Linked DNA regions of Homo sapiens: region 2 is reported to be linked to region 1. The links are microRNA targets in miRTarBase. Many come from high-throughput screens and were not tested one by one. Region 1 holds a microRNA gene; the other region holds the end of a gene's coding sequence.

Evidence for each region. Region 1 holds the annotated microRNA hsa-miR-30c-5p (UGUAAACAUCCUACACUCUCAGC, at 1,360-1,382, shown strand). A microRNA usually pairs through its seed, bases 2 to 8, with sites in the 3' UTR of a target mRNA and lowers its output. Matches are read on the target gene's strand: a 7mer-m8 pairs with bases 2 to 8, a 7mer-A1 pairs with bases 2 to 7 and ends in A, and an 8mer does both.
Region 2: the mRNA of PLXNA1 is a reported target of hsa-miR-30c-5p. Seed matches in the 3' UTR shown: 8mer at 2,854-2,861.

The regions. Positions count from the first base shown.
Region 1 is chr6:71,375,234-71,378,384 of GRCh38, reverse strand. MIR30C2 (microRNA 30c-2) reads left to right here and starts at 1,354; the gene lies at 1,354-1,425.
Region 2 is chr3:127,033,630-127,036,629 of GRCh38, forward strand. PLXNA1 (plexin A1) reads left to right here. Exons shown (of 32, transcript NM_032242.4): 32 at 293-3,000. The coding sequence ends at 388. Among named protein-coding and RNA genes, the nearest start is that of PLXNA1, 52 kb to the left of the region's middle.

The DNA of each region.
Region 1 (3,151 bases):
TGGCACATAAGGACTCCCATCTTTCCCTTGTGTCTCTCCCCTTACCCTTCACCCACATGCATCTTTGACTCCACCTCTGCTGAATTCTTAAAGGCCTCAGCATACATTACCTTTGTCTTTCTTTCTCTATTGGATGACTGTTCTTTCTGGTACACTTTAAGCTACACTATCTTCTTCACTGCCCACCCCTTCCAAATTCCCATTAGCACCATCTTCACCTAGCTAATTTTATTCAGGCTTCAAGACTCAGCCTGGCTATTAGCCAACTCAGAAGTGTCTTTTGACCCATCATAACACTTATAGTAATGGTGTATGTGTCTGTCTTGCAAATTAAGCTGTGTCCTTCTCGAAGGTAGGGATGATACCCTTCATTTCTCATCACCTAGAATTTAAAACATTGCTGATATATGGCAGGCAGTCACAATTGTTTGTTGAATGAATGAATGAATGAATGAAATGAGTAAGATCCTGTAACAGTTTGGAATTATATGCCACCTGGGTTTACAGTGTAGTCTCTTATCAGGTAGGTTTGTTCTGAGATGTATAGTAATGATGACTTTCTTCTTCGCCCAAGTATTTTGTGTACCTTAGACCAGTTTAGCAAATGAAGTCCAAGAACTATTTGAATAAGTCATTCTTAGAAAATAACTTTAGGAAGCAACTGACTCCATTCATGTGTATGCCTCTAATTGTAGGTTCACTTCTGTCCGAATATGAATTTTTAAAATAATTTTAGCATTATATTAGCAATTTGCAATATACCATTTTTATGCATGTAAAGTTGTATTCTAACATATTTACTTTTTGCTCATTTGATTAAATTTATTACTGTGTATCCCATCATTAAGGTAACTAATTTTCAGTAATTAAACTGTTGGTCTTCTGTTTAGCCATTATTCTCAGTTCTGTGCAGGAGTGAGCTGAAACAAAGTTGTATAGCCCAGAGAGTGAGAAGCTGCATTTCATGTCTCCCAACAGTCAGAAAGGGATTATGTACTGTTTAAGGAAGGAGTTTGGCGAATATTTTGAAACCCTTTTGGGAAAGCATAGAATATTGAAAATCCAAAATTAACCAAATCCGTGAGTGTGCAAGCTCAAAGCTAGAGACCTTAGGAATATCTTAGGATGTGCAAAACAGGAAGAAAACAAGAACTGAGCAGGCAGCACTAAGTAAGTGTCATATAGCCTCCCCACCCACCCTTCCAACCCTACTCCTAAAAGAGCCATAATTTAGTCCCAAGTATACTTTTCTGATCTTTTCCTGTGACATATTATGGTATCTTCAAATGGTACTGGGTTTCCTGAGGCTTGTGCTGCTGACTGCCAACCCCATCCTAGAGAGCACTGAGCGACAGATACTGTAAACATCCTACACTCTCAGCTGTGGAAAGTAAGAAAGCTGGGAGAAGGCTGTTTACTCTTTCTGCCTTGGAAGTCAACTAAAGAGAAATGGATTTTGAATATTTCTATGTCTTAGAATTGATCCTATCCCGTGTTTGTTTCTGAGGTCAACTGTAAAAGGAAAAAAGGTGAATTGACTAAGTCATCCAAAGAAATGTAAGATAATCTATAATATCAGTTATATTTGAACTGTTTCACTTAGTTTAAAAAGAAAAAAAAGATTACCAAATACCCAAGTGACAAAAGTTCTGGTTAACTTGTATGAGGCTACATTTTGTGGGTTGCTGCAGTCTGATCTGTAAAAGCAACACATTACCTATACGTTAAGCTAAACATTTCTCCTTTAACCTGAGAGCATTCCACACTGAAGTCTGCTTTTCTTGAAGCAAAAATTCTAGTGTCCTTGGACTTGCTATTTTATCAGGGATCAAAGGCACCTTGGAGCCCCATGCTTTAGGAATTGTAATGGCAAACAATAAGGTCTGCTCTTTAAAGCTAGAATATAGTTACACATTTCAGGAAAAAATAGAATTGTTGTTGGAGGACGGGAGAGGAAGGAAAATGTAGAGGTAAGGGATGGGATGCAAGAAGTTAATTTTAAGAAAAATCTACAGAACGAACTCATAAGTTCAGCCTTAACCAGAAAAACTCTTTCATGTAAATCGTTTAAATCAAAGGTCTATTAAACATCTAATCTAGAATGTAACTTACCTGAAATTTGAGTCCATTGCTGATTTATTTAAAATTATTATGAAATAAGCCTTCTTGTTAAAGAGAATATTTAAATAAGGCATATTTTTATATAACAAGCCCTTAAGAAGTTAAATAATTAACTTAATGCTTCTATTAAAAATTAAACAAATCTGAACAAAATTACTCTAGTCTTGGCATATCAGCATATATCAGTCATTTAAACTAAAAGACACTCTACTACTTTAGAAGTATTAGAGGAGCTTTTAATTTTACCTCCGCACTGACTGTAGAGCCTAATACAATAGGAGTAATTGTTTCATATGAGTTTATAGAAAAAAAGTTTAAATACAATGACTTTAGCATGTGATTTCAGGGAAGTATTTGAACAGGCTGGCCTTGAAGCAGTGGTAGACACTGTTGAAGTGCCAGCTTGATTGAGTCATTTACCTTTTTAGGTTTGCCTACAGGCTTAAGAAAACCCTCTTTGAAACAATGCTCTACAGTCTTCTCAAAGAAATAATTGTTATAGATGTTTGAAATTTTGCTTTCTGCTAGGAGAGGCAGATAATATGGGTAAGGGGAAAAGCAACTCTAAGCAGCAGAGAATGATGCATATGCTTTGCCATAGCATTTTATTATTCTGCCTAAATTAAAAGGGGGGACATTCAAATATTCCAGATCTAAATTTATGGTTAACTTTTAGTCATGAATGTAGGTGTTTCAAAGCTTATTGAAATACATGCTGAAATTCATTCATCATTCAAGAATTATTTATTGAGCATCTACTATGTGAACTTCTAGGCACAGGGGATATAGCAGAGAACAGAAACAAAGTCCTTTTTCTCATGGAACTTACAAGAAAATATATAATGTGTCAAAATATAAACATCTTGTGTATCTATGTAAAATATCTAATTTTATTCAATCTTTTTATTGCCTTGTCCTCCAAAACCAAGTGTATTTAAATATTCCAGAATATTTCTTTCATTGACTATGGAAAACTTTGATATAAAGCTATATAATTTTGGTTTTTGTTTAGTATTATTCTTCTAGATAT
Region 2 (3,000 bases), not on the chromosome of region 1:
GGGCACAGAAACCCCAGGGTGTGAGGACTGGGTGGGGACATGTCAGCAGCATGGCCAGGCAGCCAAGGGATCAGAGCCTGCTGTTTTAGGGGGTGAGAGTAGGATGATGACAGGGGCAGGGCTCATTCTCCATATTGGGGTCCTGGAGGGTCCAGGCTCACAACCAAGGTCCTTTGGCCAGGGGTAGATGGGGTTGAACCTCTGGCACCTACTCTGGAGGCATCTGCCCTGGGCCTGCTGAGTGCATGGAGGCTGGTGGCCCGGCATGCTGACAGTTCTCCTGGCCCTGCAGATCCTGGCAGCCCTGGAGAAGGATGAGCAGGCGCGGCGGCAGCGGCTGCGGAGCAAGCTGGAGCAGGTGGTGGACACGATGGCCCTGAGCAGCTGAGCCCCAGCTGTGATCATCCAGCATGATGCAGCGTGAGGACAGCTGAGCAGGGACCGGGACAGCCCTCACCGCATGCGTGTGGAGTGTCCGGTGGTGCTCGGGCCGCCGCAGTGCAGCGACTGCCCGGCCCTCCCTCCCCTGCCTCACCCGGTCGGGTCCCGGCTCTTCCTGTGTGGAGGTGATGGTACCTGCCACACCACAGCTGCGCACACAGCTGCTTGCTCAGGGGCCGGGACAGCACTGGGTGCTCAGGCTGGCCAAGGACCTTCATTGCCTGGCAAGAGCTGCCCAGTGGCCTTCATGGGAGAAGGGCTGACCTCTGAGGGGCTGAGGGGTGAGGCCAGGGCCCTCCAGGGGGAGGGGTAGCCAGCTTGGGCTGTCCCCTTGAGACCAGGACAAGAGGCTGGGGGTGTCAGCATTCCCAGCTTTCCAAGCTGCCCCCAGGCGGCAGAGTCTGAGGGTCCCGGGGCCCGGTTGGCAGCTGGAGAAAGAGGCAAAAAGCCCGTAGCCGGGCAAGAGGAGCTCAAGTCGGTCTGGGCCCGTTGCCACCGACTCCCACCTCCAGCACCCATGCCCGCTGCACCGCTGCCATCCTCAGATTCACCGCGTGCTCTGCGCGGCCGAGGCCGGAGCACCACATCCACCTCGCCCCAGAGAGGCTCTGCTCCCTCCTATGGAGGGGCTGTGGGCCAGGCTGCTCAGACTCCTGGGTGGCTTCCAGACGGACCGGGCAGCCCCTCTCCGTCCTCAGGGCTGTGCCTCTGGGAGCCACTGGGCCAGGGGCCCCGGGTCGCAGAGAGCACGTTCCCGTTATTTATTCCCCTCCGCGTCCTACACAGGCTGCCCTGGCAGCTGTCTTCAAGGGTAGGCTGAGCTCCCCACCCTGGAGCCCCTGAGGGCGGCCCCTGAGCACTCCTCTCTCTCCACTCTCTCTGTCCCTGCCCCAGCGGCTTCCAGTGTGGCATCTCAGCAGTGTCCTGGCCCCTCCAGAGCAGTGGGACATCTGGGGACTGTTTTTGTGTTTAGGGGAAAAAATTCTGCTGCACTCTGCTTGGGCCTTGAGGTCTGTGGCAGGGCTCCTCTGGCCCGCAGTGGCCTGGATCTATCTGGGCCATGAGTGACGGGCAGTGACCAGAGGGACTGGAGGCCAGCGGTGTCCACCCTTGCCCTCAGCAAGAGAGAATGCATTCTTAAAAGAAAGCTGTACATGTATATATATGCATATATATATATGTGGCTCTAGCCTCAGGCTCCAGCCCCAGTGGGGTACTGTACAGTTAACTGAAGAAGAATTTTAAAGACGATTTGAACAAGAAAATGAAGGCAGTGGGAAAGCAATGCCAAATGGTTGTGGAGAAAGTGGCCGGAGCCTCCCTGGAGTGGAGCAGCCCTGAAGCCTGTGCCCCCCGACCTGCGGGCCGCTGTTTTGGTTTGACATGACAAGGAAAGGACTTCCTGCTGACCCTGAGAGCCTCTGGGGTGCCGCGGCACCACGGGGCATGCATGATTGTGCTAGCGTTTAGTCTGAGTTGATCTTTTTAAAACTGCAAGTGTTGAATACTAGAGGTTGTTAGACCCTTTTTTATGTTTTTTAATTAATCAGTCACTTGTAAAAGCAAACAAGCGGTCCATCCCCTTTTCAAGGTCACTTTTTTGATGGTACCGAAGATCCCATGGACATTAAGGGACAGCTAACTGTGGCCAGACTCAGCCCCATGTCCTTGGCCAGGCCCAAGGAGAGGACTCGGCCCCATGGGGTGTGCCAGTCTTGCAGTCCGCCCCAGCTGAGTAGCGTGAGCCAGATGACGCCACAGAGACCCGCCTCTTCCCTGAACGCGGGTCGGTGTGGAGTCAGTGACTGCTGACTCAGGGAGCTCCTTGGCCCCGTGGGCACTGTGCCAGGGCTGGGGCCTTCTGCTGCTGCCACACCCAGCTCAGGCCTGGGCCAGCCCCTGCCCCCAGCCCACTGAGGGGGTGGGCTTACTCCCTGGGCAGTCTTGGGGGCCAGAGCTGAGGCCAGTCCATATTACAGTGGCTGGGCTGTTTTTTTCAGTAGCCCCTAGCATTGGCTGGGATTCCTGTTCCTGGGTGCGCCTCCACCTCCCTTCTGATGTTTCCTGGCTATGGTGGGGTGGGAACCTCAGTTTCCCCCAAAGTCTTCCCTGGATGCTGGCTTCAGGTTGAAGTCCCTGGTTCTTCCAGTTCCTCACGGGTTAGGTAGGGGCTCCTGCATCACCTTCAGAATCCAGTTCCAACCCCCACTCTCCTTAGGCCTTGTGCTCTGCTCTGCCCTGCCAGGCTGCCCTTGTCCATGTGAGTAGCATGGGCGGGTGGTGGGGACGGCAGTGGTGATGAAGGGGGTGCACCACAGGCCTCATGAAGCAGTTCCCACATGGGCGTGTGGCTGGGGCGTGGCCACCACAGAGCACATGGCTGTGTCTAGGCGCAAGCACTTTAGCAGTATCTGTTTACATGCGCAAGGATCAAGCCGACTACCTGTGCTGTCTACTGGGACAGCAGTCTCCGAGCTACTCCGTACCTCCCTCTGCCAGGTCGTGGAGTTAGGCCCCAGTCCCTACTTGTCACTGGTTCCCACTGTGCTCCTAACTGTG